Linked DNA regions of Homo sapiens. The protein of the gene in region 1 purifies or fractionates together with the protein of each later gene. This does not show direct contact. Each region holds a gene or a part of one and is shown in the gene's direction. Other genes may lie near its edges.

Region 1 (2,853 bases):
TGATACCATAATGGGACATGAAAGATCTGTGATTTTCGTTAGTAACAAAGTTGCAGGTGCTGCCAACGCTAATGATAGTTTGTTGTCTGCATTCATGGTCAAAGAAATGCTACATCTCAGTCAGCGCTTGGGTAGAACAAAGATGTGCGTTTTTCCCCATTCACGTTTGCAGATCTGCTGTCAGTTGACCTGTGCTAAGAACCTGAGTTACCTGATAGATGAGACATTTGCTCTTCCCCCCACCCCCTCCATTTAATTGAGCATTTCTCAGCAACCCTTTTAACTGGGTTAACTGTAAAAATGGTGAGTCATGGGTGTTACTGATCACAAGCATGCAGTTTGTTTACATGTTGACTTCTTTGTATCAGCGAAACCTTCACGGCTCTTCTAAATTCCTCTGATTTTGGTTGCCCAAATTATAATGACCGACTTCAGAGTATACTTTCACATGTTATCTCACTGATACTTAGAAGCCCCCTGCATTGGGCTGTTCCGTTCTCCATTTCAGAGGTAGGGTTGCAGTTCCTAAAGTGCAGCTCTGGGGCCTGGGTCCCGCCGTCCCCCTGTGCACCCTTTCCACCCCTTTCCTTGCTTACTGTCCTGTTTGTTGTTTGGTGTTCACATGGGCAGAGACATCCAGCAGGAGGCCTTCCGAGCCAGTCACACCCACTGGCGGGGCGTTTCCTTTGTCTACAACCACTACCTGTTCTCTGGCTGCTTCCTGGTGGTGCTGCTGGCCATCCTGCTGTACCTGCTGCGGCTGCGGCGCATCCACAGGCGCACTCCCCGGAGCAGCTCGGCCGCCGCCCTCTGGATGGAGGAGGGCCTTCCCGCCCAGAATGCCCCGGGGACCTTGTGATCCAGCTCACAGCTCCACGAAGACTCAAAAGGAAAAGCCATTTTTGCCTCAGGGTTTCTCCTCTTTATTTTCCTGTGGTTTTGTTTTTTCTTTCCCTTTTTTGTTCCTCCAAACAAAAACAAAATGCAGGCCGAGCGCGGTGGCTCACGCCTGTAATCCCAGCACTTTGGGAGGCCGAGGCGGGCGGATCATGAGGTCAGGAGATCGAGACCATCCTGGCTAACACGGTGAAACCCCGTCTCTACTAAAAATACAAAAAATTAGCTGGGTGTGGTGGCGGGCGCCCGTAGTCCCAGCTACTCAGGAGGCTGAGGCAGGAGAATGGCATGAACCTGGGAGGCAGAGCTTGCAGTGAGCCGAGATCACACCACTGCACTCCAGCCTGGGCGACAGAGTGAGACTCCGTCTCAAAAAAAAAAAATGCATTGTTTATAAGCCCTGCTGTCTAGAAGTATTGCGTTTAGCCATTTTGAGTACAGCATTAAATTGAGGAGTGGGGAAGAGGGAAATTCACTTGATTTTTGCTGCACAGGATATCTGCCAAAAATAAATGAGATTTCTGGGGTTTCTCTAAGGAATGTTAAATTTAAACACATGCACTTTGATACTGGAGGGAGGTGGAAAGATGCATTCTGTCAGTGGAGAGGGGACTGAATAGTGATGCTTTCATAGAACCAAAAAACTTACTGCCTGAAATGATAATCCTCTTTTTTCTCTATCTTGAAAGCTCTAACCTGAAGAGGGTGATTTTTTTTTTTATTTATTGTTCAGGTCTGTTACTGTATATGTTTTCTTTGCAAATTTAAATTTTTTAAACCATTTATATCCAAAACAGAGAAACATGGGCACCAGGAGATAACCATTTATAAAAGTGATAGTGAACTATCGACTACAGCTTTGTGCGAGTGTGTGAAAAATCCCAAGAAACCAGCGTGAGGGGAGGCAATGCTGGTTCTTTAAAAACACACACTTCAGAATTTACTGGTACATTTTATTTAGAAAAATCCTCGTTACTGTTATCTTTTCCTGACCGCAGGTAATTACGCTCCTTATTCCATATTTCAGTGGCATTAGAACACTGTGGTTTTGAAAGAATTGGAAATTCCTAGTTTCACCAGTTTCGGTTTTATTGGAACTAGAGCACATGCCCACTTCTTGCTCAGTATTCCTCAGTGTTTCTGCTTAATCGTGCCTCAGTTTCTTCCAGCTTCCAATTGGTGTTTCCCCCACCCCCCTTAATTAAAAGTCATCTCAGCTTTTAATCGTACTGGGAGACCCCATGCACAGCCTGCCGAGTCCTCTTCCTAACCGCATTGACTGAGGCTGTTGCTGGCAGCACCACTGTAAATCCAGAAGGGAAGAGTCTGCATCCAATACAGGAAATAAATTCACATTTTGAAGGAAAAAATTCGACAATTTAAGCCAAAATCTAAAAAGGACAATTGGATTGGCATATGTGAGATTGGTGTTTTTTCACCTATTTATTTAGTTGAGAAGTTTGGGGAATTCTCGTACAGTTTTTTTAGGTGGAGTTTGTTTTGTGCGAGTGTCTGTGTGTGCTGTTCCCTAACTCCAGAACAGTTAAATTCCTGTAGTTGGTAGCAGATTAGTACCCAGAAGTGGGGTTGTTGCTATAACAGATAACTGAGGATATTATAAAAGTGGCTTTGGAACTAGGTACTGGGCAGAGGCTGGGAGAGTTTGGAGAAACAGGAGAGAAAAGGCCTGTATTGCCATGAACTGAGCATTAGGGGCAGTTCTGCTGAGGGATCAGAAGAGAAGACCAAGGGAATTCTGTCCCAGTTGTGGCTCAAACTGCCTCAGGTGCAGCTTAACCTGCGTCTCTGGAAGGTAAAATGCATCTGATCCTTGAGGCAAGAGCTGTGGGGGCATGGCTCCCTCACCTGGATTTCAAAGCGTGTTACCAGCAGCCTGGGGACCCAGGCTCTGCCTCTGGATTTACCTGCATCGTATTTGCGCTTCGTGGTCAAAGT
Region 2 (4,298 bases), on another chromosome or scaffold:
GAGGGAAGCATGCCAAATGTCAGGTCTCACTCTGACTTTGTTCCAGTCCATAGCTAGAAAATGACCCATAGAGGAAGATCTACAGATGACAGAATACTGGGAGATGAAGAGAAAGGACGTTTTAGTGAGTGCTTTTTTTGCACATGAGGCAATAGATTTCAAATTCCTGTGGAAGAAATGTGAGAACCTGGGAAGAGTGAATATTCAGAACTGAGCAGCAGAGGCAATGACACAGCATGGAAAGATTTCCTCTGATCCTTCTACCTTCTCTTTTACTGAAGTGAATTTGTTGTCTCTGTGTTGCCTCTATAGCAGTACAAGAGGAAACTTGGGGACACAGAAGAACAGAAGTCTAAGGAGTCTTATATTTAAGGAAGATAAGCTGCAGTCATTGAAATTGCTGGTTATTGTAAGATAAATCCCAGACTCCCACATTTTGCTTAATGACAGCAGATTTTTTTTTTTTTTTAACTGCAAAGCATTAATGGAATCCAAATTCCAGCCTGGCTTAGGAGATCAACAGTAACGCTCTTGATTTAATGGTTTTGCAGACTCTTGAAGACATTGTCATCCATTAAAGAAAAAATTTTAAATTACTCTTGAAAGAAAATGTCTTGGGTGATAAATGTAAAAGATTTGAAGCAAGATTAGAAAAAGCTTGAGAGAAGAATCTCTTTAAAAATTTTACCAGATTTTCCCCATTGTCGCCAAAATGGGTCAAATAATAGATTTGCCTACAGCTTCATGGAGACTATTTTTTTAAACAGAGCATTTTAAACATTTAAATATTGGTTATTTGCCAAGGCACACACTGAAAATAAGGGCCACTTGGCCGAGAGCAGAATTGAGTCTTGGATCCCAGGATGCTGGTTTTAGGCTTGCTCCCGGAAAGAGGGCAGCATTTGCCATCCCCCTCCTTTTGCCCTAGGAGTTGAGCACTTTCTGCAGTACTTAAGAGTGTCCAGGGAAGATGTGGGAGTCAGGTGAATAGTTCCCATCGCCAGTAACCCCAGAGCGCCTCCCCCTGCGTTGTTTCCTTTTAATGTTAGATCCGCCGCCTGGGTGCCCATACTTAGCTAAGGCCCCTCAGTTTATTTTCCTGAATTGCGCTTGGAGATCTTTTCCTGGGGAGCTGATAGCCAGACTTCTAGGGGCTTGACTGCTTTTCCCAGACTAATCTCCTTAAAGACCCGTTAAGCAGGGGAGAGACGGTGGAGACTGGATGAACTGGACAGTGGGGGTAGGGAGAAAGGGAGTGGCCGTGTTCCTGCGGTCCGCTGGGATCCGGCAGGTCCAGGGTGAAGGAGATGGGGCTGGAGAGGCTGAGCAGTCCGGGTTCGCTGTCCGCCACTTCGGCGCGGAATCAGAGCAGGACTTGCTGAGCCCTCCTACCGCTCCCTTTCCCCCTCCCCCTCTGTCTTCCCTTCTGTTTCCTTTTCCCTCCCCCTGGAGCTGTAGCGGCAGCAGCAGCAGGAAGCCGAGCCGGGTTGAGCGACTCGGAGGCGAGCGGAGGAGCTGGAATATGGGGAGTCAGCGAGGACGGTGGGGCCAGGAGCCCTTGGGAGGGCCTACGGAGGGAGCGGCCCCAGGCGCTTTCTAGAGCGTGAGCGGTGGGGGAGCAGGCGCAGGGTGGCACGAGCGGAGGCGGGGCCCGGGCGTGGGGCACGGCTGGGGAAGCTGCCGCCTCCGGCCCTGCCCGGCTGCCTCCGCCGCGGCCAGTGGCTATGGAGCAGGCGGGCACCAGACCTGCGGCGACAGAGCATCCACGGCTCCGGCGGCCCATGCCCTGGCTGCTGCTACTGCCTCTCCTGCTGCTGTTGCTGCTGCTGCTACCTGGCCCTGCGGCCTCCCAGCTGCGATACTCTGTGCCAGAGGAGCAGGCACCCGGCGCGCTCGTGGGCAACGTGGCTCGCGCGCTGGGGCTTGAGCTGCGGCGCTTGGGGCCGGGTTGCTTGCGCATCAACCATCTGGGTGCGCCCAGTCCGCGCTACCTGGAGCTGGACCTGACGAGTGGAGCGCTCTTCGTCAACGAGCGCATTGATCGGGAGGCGCTGTGTGAGCAGCGGCCTCGCTGCCTGCTCAGCTTGGAAGTGCTGGCGCACAACCCCGTGGCGGTGAGCGCCGTTGAGGTGGAAATATTGGACATCAACGACAACTCACCGCGTTTCCCGCGGCCCAACTACCAGCTTCAGGTAAGCGAATCGGTGGCGCCTGGAGCGCGCTTTCACATAGAGAGTGCGCAGGACCCCGACGTGGGCGCCAACTCAGTACAGACCTACGAGCTCAGCCCCAGCGAGCACTTCGAGCTGGACCTTAAGCCCCTGCAGGAGAACAGTAAAGTGCTTGAGCTGGTGCTGCGTAAGGGCCTAGACCGGGAGCAGGCAGCCTTGCACCACCTGGTTCTCACAGCCGTGGATGGGGGCATCCCAGCCCGCTCGGGTACGGCACAGATCTCTGTGCGTGTCCTGGACACTAACGACAACTCTCCTGCCTTTGACCAGTCCACTTATCGCGTCCAGCTACGGGAGGACTCACCCCCAGGCACATTGGTGGTGAAGCTGAATGCCTCAGACCCGGATGAGGGCTCCAATGGTGAGCTCAGGTACTCCTTGAGCAGCTACACGTCGGACCGGGAGAGGCAGCTCTTCAGCATAGATGCCAGTACCGGGGAAGTGCGAGTAATTGGGGGGCTGGATTATGAGGAAGCCTCCTCCTACCAGATCTATGTGCAGGCGACTGACCGGGGTCCAGTGCCCATGGCAGGTCACTGCAAGGTGCTGGTGGACATCGTGGACGTGAATGACAATGCCCCAGAGGTGGTGCTCACGGACCTGTATAGCCCAGTGCCTGAGAATGCTACACCCAACACCATTGTGGCCGTTCTCAGTGTCAATGACCAAGACTCAGGCCCCAACCGGAAAGTGAGCCTGGGTCTGGAGGCCACACTGCCTTTCCGACTGAATGGCTTTGGAAACTCCTATACACTGGTGGTGAGCGGCCCACTGGACCGAGAGCGGGTGGCTGTCTACAACATCACGGTGACAGCCACAGATGGGGGAATACCGCAGCTCACATCCCTGCGTACACTGAAGGTTGAGATCTCTGACATCAATGACAATCCACCAAGCTTCCTGGAGGACTCCTATTCCATCTACATACAGGAGAACAATTTGCCAGGTGTGTTGCTCTGTACTGTGCAAGCCACAGACCCAGATGAAAAGGAGAATGCAGAGGTGACCTACTCCCTTCTGGAGAGGGAGATTCAAGGGCTGCCAGTCACCTCCTATGTCTCCATTAACAGTGCCAGTGGCAGCCTTTATGCTGTCAACTCCTTTGACTATGAGAAGTTTCGGGAGTTCTTTGTGACTGTGGAGGCTCAGGACAAGGGGAGCCCACCACTGAGCAGCACTGTGACTGCCAACGTATATGTGGTGGACATGAATGACCATGCCCCTCACATTCTGTACCCTACCTCAACCAACTCGTCAGCAGCCTTCGAGATGGTGCCTCGAACTGCCCCTGCTGGCTACCTGGTCACCAAAGTCATAGCTATGGACTCAGACTCTGGGCAAAATGCTTGGCTTTTTTACCATCTAGCCCAGACTTCTGACCTGGACCTCTTTAAGGTAGAGCTGCACACAGGAGAAATTAGGACTACCAGGAAGATGGGAGATGAGAGTGGTAGCACTTTCAACCTGACCGTGGTGGTCCGAGATAATGGAGAGCCATCACTATCAGCCTCTGTGGCCATTACAGTAGCTGTGGTGGATAGGGTTTCCAAAATCCTCCCTGACACTCAGAGGCATGTTAAGAGCCCTCGGACATACTCTGAAATTACCCTTTATCTAATAATAGCATTAAGCACAGTGTCTTTTATATTTCTTTTGACAATCATCATTTTGAGCATCATCAAGTGCTACCGCTACACTGCGTATGGCACTGCATGCTGTGGAGGCTTCTGTGGAGTAAGGGAAAGGTCCCCTGCAGAACTGTACAAACAAGCCAACAACAATATTGATGCCAGGATACCGCATGGCCTCAAAGTGCAGCCTCACTTCATTGAAGTTCGAGGGAATGGCTCCCTCACCAAGACCTACTGCTACAAGGCCTGTCTGACAGCAGGCTCAGGGAGTGACACTTTCATGTTTTACAATACAGGGGCCCAGACAGGACCAGGGCCTTCGGGAGCCCAAGCAGCAGTGACTGACAGCAGGAATCTCACAGGCCAAAGTGGTCAGAATGCTGGGAACCTGATTATTCTCAAAAATGAGGCTGTTTCTCAAAATGAGGTGAGACAG
Region 3 (3,860 bases), on another chromosome or scaffold:
ACAGTAATTGCCTTCTTGAGTGTGCATGACCAAGACTCTGGAAAGAATGGTCAAGTTGTCTGTTACACACGTGATAATTTACCTTTTAAATTAGAAAAGTCAATAGGTAATTATTATAGATTAGTGACAAGGAAATATTTGGACCGAGAAAATGTCTCTATCTACAATATCACAGTGATGGCCTCAGATCTAGGAACACCACCTCTGTCCACTGAAACTCAAATCGCTCTGCACGTGGCAGACATTAACGACAACCCTCCTACTTTCCCTCATGCCTCCTACTCAGCGTATATCCTAGAGAACAACCTGAGAGGAGCCTCCATCTTTTCCTTGACTGCACACGACCCCGACAGCCAGGAGAATGCCCAGGTCACTTACTCTGTGACCGAGGACACGCTGCAGGGGGCGCCCCTGTCCTCGTATATCTCCATCAACTCTGACACCGGTGTCCTGTATGCGCTGCAATCTTTCGACTATGAGCAGATCCGAGACCTGCAGCTACTGGTAACAGCCAGCGACAGCGGGGACCCGCCCCTCAGCAGCAACATGTCACTGAGCCTGTTCGTGCTGGACCAGAATGACAACGCGCCCGAGATCCTGTACCCCGCCCTCCCCACAGACGGTTCCACTGGCGTGGAGCTGGCGCCCCGCTCCGCAGAGCGTGGCTACCTGGTGACCAAGGTGGTGGCGGTGGACAGAGACTCGGGCCAGAACGCCTGGCTGTCCTACCGCCTGCTCAAGGCCAGCGAGCCGGGACTCTTCTCGGTGGGTCTGCACACGGGCGAGGTGCGCACGGCGCGAGCCCTGCTGGACAGAGATGCGCTCAAGCAGAGCCTCGTGGTGGCCGTCCAGGACCATGGCCAGCCCCCTCTCTCCGCCACTGTCACGCTCACCGTAGCCGTGGCTGACAGCATCCCCGAAGTCCTGACCGAGTTGGGCAGTCTGAAGCCTTCGGTCGACCCGAACGATTCGAGCCTTACACTCTATCTCGTGGTGGCAGTGGCTGCCATCTCCTGTGTCTTCCTCGCCTTTGTCGCTGTGCTTCTGGGGCTCAGGCTGAGGCGCTGGCACAAGTCACGCCTGCTCCAGGATTCCGGTGGCAGATTGGTAGGCGTGCCTGCCTCACATTTTGTGGGTGTTGAGGAGGTACAGGCTTTCCTGCAGACCTATTCCCAGGAAGTCTCCCTCACCGCCGACTCGCGGAAGAGTCACCTGATCTTTCCCCAGCCCAACTACGCAGACATGCTCATCAGTCAGGAGGGCTGTGAGAAAAATGATTCTTTGTTAACATCCGTAGATTTTCATGAATATAAGAATGAAGCTGATCATGGTCAGGTGAGTTTAGTTCTTTGCTTGCTTTTAATTTCCAGATGAATTTTATTTGGCATAAATTATGTTTTGAAAAACATTGTGAAGATAGTTGAAAATAATTTTTAAGGTGTATCACAGAGTTTTGGGTTTATTTTGGTGGTGTTACTATAAAATTGAACTCTAATAGTCATAGGTTATTGTTTCATTTGCTTTTAAACGACTTGGAAAAGATTGTTCAACCATTTTAAGCCTTCCAGTATTTTATTCCTATTATCACTCATTCACTTAAGAAGTAGCTACCCGTCCATACTGGTAATTTTGCTATTGTTTGTGTGTGTGTGTGTGTGTGTGTGTGTGTGTGTGTGTGTGTGTGTGTGTATCCCAAACTAGAACTTCAGAAAATTATCAAGAAGTCTAAAGCCTTGTTATTAGCTTAGCAAAAGTAAAATATATCTCAGAATTTTTAGGGTTATGTTTAGCATTTGAACCTGTAACTAGGCTCTTGTAGATTTCTTCACTTTAAACCTCTTTTCTGAGCCCTGTTTCTGTACCAGTGCCCTTCAAAACTTTAATACTTCTTACCATCCTTCAAAACATGAACAAACTTTAAAGATGGATCTTGGTGGGAGATGAGACTGGTTACTAAATATTAAGTATGTGAGTCAGTGGTCACCTGGGCTCCATGCCCATGGAGACATGAAATCTAAAGCCTAGAATGTCCATTGCTCCCCCAAACAAAAAACAAAAGCAAAAACATTAGATCTGAATTAAAATGTAATTTTAAACTGTTGAAAGTGACTTTTGTAAAATATGTAAGAACATATTTCAATACAATTCCAATTAGCTGTTTCGGTTGTGCATTGATGTGAAGTGGTGAGAATGTTGATATTAAGAACCAATGTTTCAGGTACACAAGTTCTAAATAAGCTGATCAATTCAATTAAAGTTATTCAGTCTTGGCTGGACACAGTGCCTCATGTCTGAAATCCCAGCACTTTGGGAGGCTGGGGCAGGAGGACCGCTTGAGCCCCGGGGGTTTGAAACTGCAGTGAGCTATGATCATGCCACTGCACTCCAGCCTAGGTGGCAGAACTAGACCCTGTCTCTAAAAAAACTATTATTAGGCCGGGTGCGGTGGCTCACGCCTGTAATCCCAGCACTTTGGGAGACTGAGGTGGGTGGATCACCTGAGGTCAGGAGTTCAAGATCAGCCTGGCAAACATGGTGAAACCCCGTCTCTACTAAAAACTACAAAAATTAGCCAGGCATGGTGGCATGCGCCTGTGGTCCCAGCTACTCGGGAGGCTGAGGCAGAAGAATCACTTGAACCCGGGAGGTGGAGGTTGCAGTGAGCCTCGATCCTGTCACTGCACTCCAGCCTGGGCAACAGGGTGAGACTCCGTCTCAAAAAAAAAAAAAACTAATATTAATAGTAAAAACTCGGTATAGGCTATCCATTATTGTATTCCTGCATACCTTCTTGTAGCATTTGAATAAAGCTAATACCTGAATTGATTGTTGTAAGGTAGAAGTAGATGACCCAATAAATGTTTGTTATTAATGAAAAGGACATTTCCTAAGGATTGTGTAGTGTTCTACTGTATGGTGCATATTCAGTGGAGTGGGAGTTAACTTCATAGTTTGTGTACCATTTGGATGCACATTTGAGAGGACAACATATTATTGGCACTTTGCAATTTTAAAAACTCGGATGAAAGTTGCCCTGGTAGGAAAGAAAATCCTTACTCTCCCTAAAAATGTTGGCTAGTTGTTTTTATTAATCTGACAAATGGACTAAAGAAGGTTGACCAATGTCCACAAATTTATGTAAATGAACTTATGAGCTTCATTTATCCAATTCCAAAGTCATTTCAGATAGGATAATAATGCAATCCACTAGAATATCCCTTTGTACCTTGTATTGCAGAATAGATAAGCATTTCCCCAATAACTCTTAAGAATGAATTTATGTACTGTAAAAGATATGACATAAGAGAAGTATTTTGAGATATGAAGAAGAGCAACGTAGTAGGGTATATCATTTCTTAGCTACATCATATGGGCAGTATACTTGAATGAATATTTCCTGAAGTAGAAGAGTAAAGAAAAATTATTTTTATAAAGAATGTTAATATAGTCAGGAAGAGGAGATGTTTGGGGATTGGTATAAAATTGCCACAACTTTACAAAATAGTTTTAAATAGTATAGATTTCCCTAATATGTGTAATATAAAACACTAGAAATATTGGGGAGTTGGAAATCATAGAAATGAACAGAAGAATGATAAAATTGTTTCCATAGCTAATAAAAAATGAATTTTTGAAATCAGTATAGTATGAAGGCTCTGAGAGCAAGAACTGTATCATATTAATTATTATATTGCCAGTGACAAGGGCAATACTTAGTTCTAGCTAAGAGTTCAAGGTATGTTTGCAGAATGGTGAAAGAATGGACCAATGTATGCAGGTTTGTATAAAAACCCAACGTGATATTTCTAACAATTTGGAAAACAGAGAAAGATACCTTAAAGAAGTTGTTATAATTTTTT
Region 4 (3,860 bases), on another chromosome or scaffold:
CCACAGACTAGTTATTTGCATCACAGTTCCCTCTTCCAAAATACGGATAATATCAAATTAAGAATATATGTGTGTAATATATATATGTTCTAATTTATATATCTATTCATATATATTTTTATTTATAGCCCTTTGAATTTCCCATGATATGTTTAAGGGCTTTAAAAACTAGTAGAATTATCGCTGACTTAAGATAAACAGGAGCCAATATCTGAATTTCTTCACTTTCAGTTTTTCTAAGGCCAAATCATTAGACTATAGGTCTTTCAGTTATCTTCTAATGGATTTCATTGTTTTATTTCTGTTAGTCAACACCAATGCGATAATTTTACACTTGCATTACTAATTGTTGTCTTTAAAAAAGACTTTGTTGGCATTTCAGTTTCTTGAATGACCCTTAAGATCTTTCAGTTATCAAGCAAAATGATCATGTGCTTATAAAAGGAGACTACTTCACTGGGCTGTTTGGTATGGAAATTGTCTTTCACAGAAATTCCTGTACATCCATCCCCTGCATGCTACAAATGCCTCCTTGTTGACATGCTAAGTTACTATTGCCTTAAAAAATAGTGTTTTCATGTACAAATTAAAAGCCATAACACTTTTAGTAGTCTATCTAATATAGCACTTCATAAACTGTATAAAACTCTGGTAAGTCACAAGTGTTTATGTTAAGAACAGTATTTTTCATTGTTTTCCTGAAAAATACTGTTCTTAACATAAACACTTGTGACTTACCTTTCTTCCCTCTTTCTTTTCCAATTTTCCTTAATGACATAGTACAGATGAAACATTATGTTTGTAAATAAACAAAAGTATTTCAACATCTTTTAACTTTATACAGAACAGAAGAAAGCTAAGACTGCAGAAAAGAGTGAAGAAAAGACTAAAAAGGAAGTGAAAGGTGGAAAACAGGAGAAAGTGAAGCAAACAGCTGCAAAAGTAAAAGAAGTACAGAAAACACCATCAAAACCCAAAGAAAAGGAGGACAAAGAGAAAGCAGCTGTGTCAAAGCATGAACAGAAAGGTAAACATTCAGAGCAGGAGGCTGCCGGAGGTTCTAAGAGAATATTGGGCAAGAAGCACATGCAGTGAAATTAAAAGTTGAAAAAGACCAAAATCAGACTTCAAATGGGGGTAAAAGACATTAAAGTAAATATATCAGAAAAGAAATACAGTAAATTGGGAATTAATATTTATTTATAAAAATACTAAAATGTGTTCACAGATCTAAAGGGGCATTTTGAAGTATTTTTAAAAGGGGTTTGGAGGTAGCATCCGAAATCATATAAAGATTGGGGATAAATGTTGAATTTTTGAGATATGGAATGTCTATTAAGAGGTGGAATAAAGATTGTATGTGTCATACTCTTTGGAGGAAAGTGGTCCCCCAAAATGACAGCAATTCCTAAGGAGTTTGTGAAGGGGTACATGTTGGAATCATATAGAGTAAATATCATAAAAACTATCCATACATTACTGTTGCATTGGCAAGAGCACATCATTTAGAATATACATCCAATTATTAAATTTATTTAATAGGCAAGATGTTATAGAGAAGACAGTTCTCAAGTTTCTTTTTCAGTTTCCATTGACTAAATTTCTAACTTTAGAAAGCTCTGAATGTGACATATTTCGCCATTCTTCAGCAAGAGTGATGTCAAACTTACATCCCCACTTTGCAAAAATATATCACTTCAATGGAGGTGGCATATAAACCTGAATTTTTATTTTATGGAAGGTTGCTATGTGAATATACAGAGCTGAAGGTTTAGGAGGGCAACTAAGGGTCTTATCGTACCACATCTCTGGCCCTTATTGAATGTTTCTTTTCCTAAGTCCATTCCTGACTCCAGTTTGCTGTATAATCCTGAGACTCCTTTACAGAATACGGGGATCTAACATGTAGAGACTATTCCTGTAATTGGTGTTTCTTGGAGACATTGCAAAACCAAATTTTTCTTTACTTTGTAGCACTTTTGACTAATGTTATCTAAGGACTGTATCAAAGAATTGGTTTCTATTAGATTTTAGTTTAAGAAATCTTACAATTTTATTACAGAGCAGGCTATTTGGAGGATGAAACTGAAATTAATTTTTCCTCATAAGGCACAAGAAATGAAATTTGCAATGCACTCGTACTGTATTTTCATCTTTTTTCTCTTGAATTTGCATTTGTAAACTTTGATTCACATGTAGTATTTGTCAACTCTGATTTATATGACAAAAGATACATATTTTAAAAATATATATTTTAAAAAGGAAAGATTTTTTCTTTTTTTAGTGATCTACAAACCTTTAAATTTAGATAATTTTAATTTATTATTTTAAGATATAAGTCATATTAAAACTTAGGAGCTCTAAAACTTTTTCCAATTTTCAAGGTGATTATATCACCATGAAAAAAATTTAAAAGTTAATTATTACTTCCATCAAAATTATGTCATTAATGAAATATTTTGGTAGACAAAAAGGATGAAGTAAGTAAAGAGAAAATACGTTGAATATAATATTTTACTGTGGTAAAAAAACAGCAGAAATAATCTTTGGATTCACTGGTATGATTACTTAGATCCTGAAATCCTTTACACTTTAGATTGCTGTTCAAAAAGAAAAATAATCACATGAAATCAGTGAAAACCTACAAAGTACATTCTAATTTTTAACCATAAATACAGAGTGTAAAAATTGATGCCAGTTATATTTGGAAATGTCAAAATACTTATCTAACAACTAGGAATGTGAATGTATTTTTTGATGTTAATTTTTCATATCTTTGGGGATTTGGGAGCCACATTTTATTGATAAAAACTCATCACCGGAACACTTTAAAATAATGTTTATTTTCCAGGCCACAAATATTGTATTTCATTTCTATCAGTAATCAGATTTATTAAAGACAGCATTATATTACCATATCCCTTTTCAGTCTACTATTTTTATTTCTACACAAAGAGTTATTTATCTATTAAAAGGACATTCAAATATCATTTAGAGTTTAAAACAAAAGCACAAATGTGATTTTATCAGCTAAACAATTGCAATTGCTAAAGCAAGTCTCAGTATTGAGAACAATTGCCATCAATTATATAAATGTATCATTAGGTAAGTATTCAAAACTTAACCTCTAATGGCAGATCAGACATATAAATATGTCATTTTATTTTTCATTTTTTGTTACTAAGCAAAGATTTAATTAAGAGCATTTTTAAATTAAAGAAAACTAATTACATTATGATTTTAGCTAAGCAAGATAAAGATATAGTTTTTTTTAATTTCTGAGGCTTTGGTTTTGAAAATTTTATATGATGACTTAGTTGAGTTAGCTCAACTAAGCTAACTGTTGAGTTAGCTTTTTGGGCAAGAGAATACTCATTCACATAGTTAAGTTAGACCTAATATGTTTGAGGCATTCTTTTCATATAGATTTCTAAATACTTCTTTTTAAAGAAATAAGGCTCATAGGTCCTTTACTCACTTGGAAACAGATTTTCACATGGGACACATATTTATTAGTAATTATTTAATTACATAGTATACATATGAATATATTCAATGTAGTTACTCTCAATATTGTATATGGAAATAATACATCTCTTTTTCTGCTTAAAGCATTAGGGATAAGATGCATATGTATATACACACCTACCATAAACACACACACACACACAGACACACACACACACCCATCAAATAATCTAGTTTTTATGAACCCATCTAAATCTGTTTGTAGAGTAGGAAGAGTTGGCATAGTCAGACATTGCTCCCTAGTTTTCTGATGACCTCTAGGAGGTCTGTGGGGAAGGAGAAACGAATTTTCCAGCTGCCACACACTTTGCTCCTTCACTCATTCTTTCTTT

What was found. The genes of interacting proteins can lie anywhere in the genome.
Region 2: the proteins of ENTPD4 (region 1) and PCDHAC2 purify together in Homo sapiens (co-immunoprecipitation; one large-scale study listed by IntAct). This does not show direct contact.
Region 3: the proteins of ENTPD4 (region 1) and PCDHGB4 purify together in Homo sapiens (co-immunoprecipitation; one large-scale study listed by IntAct). This does not show direct contact.
Region 4: the proteins of ENTPD4 (region 1) and TRDN purify together in Homo sapiens (co-immunoprecipitation; one large-scale study listed by IntAct). This does not show direct contact.

What each region holds. Positions count from the first base shown.
Region 1 is NC_000008.11:23,430,932-23,433,784, reverse strand, and holds part of ENTPD4 (ectonucleoside triphosphate diphosphohydrolase 4), read left to right. Parts: intron 1-630; coding exon 631-859; 3' UTR 860-2,853.
Region 2 is NC_000005.10:140,965,043-140,969,340, forward strand, and holds the start of PCDHAC2 (protocadherin alpha-C2 isoform 1 precursor), read left to right. Parts: upstream 1-1,433; 5' UTR 1,434-1,724; coding exon 1,725-4,289; coding exon of another isoform or gene 4,290-4,298. UniProt on the Homo sapiens protein: Potential calcium-dependent cell-adhesion protein. May be involved in the establishment and maintenance of specific neuronal connections in the brain.
Region 3 is NC_000005.10:141,393,903-141,397,762, forward strand, and holds part of PCDHGB4 (protocadherin gamma-B4 isoform 1 precursor), read left to right. Parts: coding exon of another isoform or gene 1-1,374; exon of another isoform or gene 1,375-2,881; intron 2,882-3,860. Other genes in the region: PCDHGA8 (protocadherin gamma-A8 isoform 1 precursor), read left to right, coding at 1-1,335. UniProt on the Homo sapiens protein: Potential calcium-dependent cell-adhesion protein. May be involved in the establishment and maintenance of specific neuronal connections in the brain.
Region 4 is NC_000006.12:123,500,886-123,504,745, reverse strand, and holds part of TRDN (triadin), read left to right. Parts: intron 1-844; coding exon 845-1,027; coding exon of another isoform or gene 1,028-1,095; exon of another isoform or gene 1,096-2,918; intron 2,919-3,860. UniProt on the Homo sapiens protein: Contributes to the regulation of lumenal Ca2+ release via the sarcoplasmic reticulum calcium release channels RYR1 and RYR2, a key step in triggering skeletal and heart muscle contraction.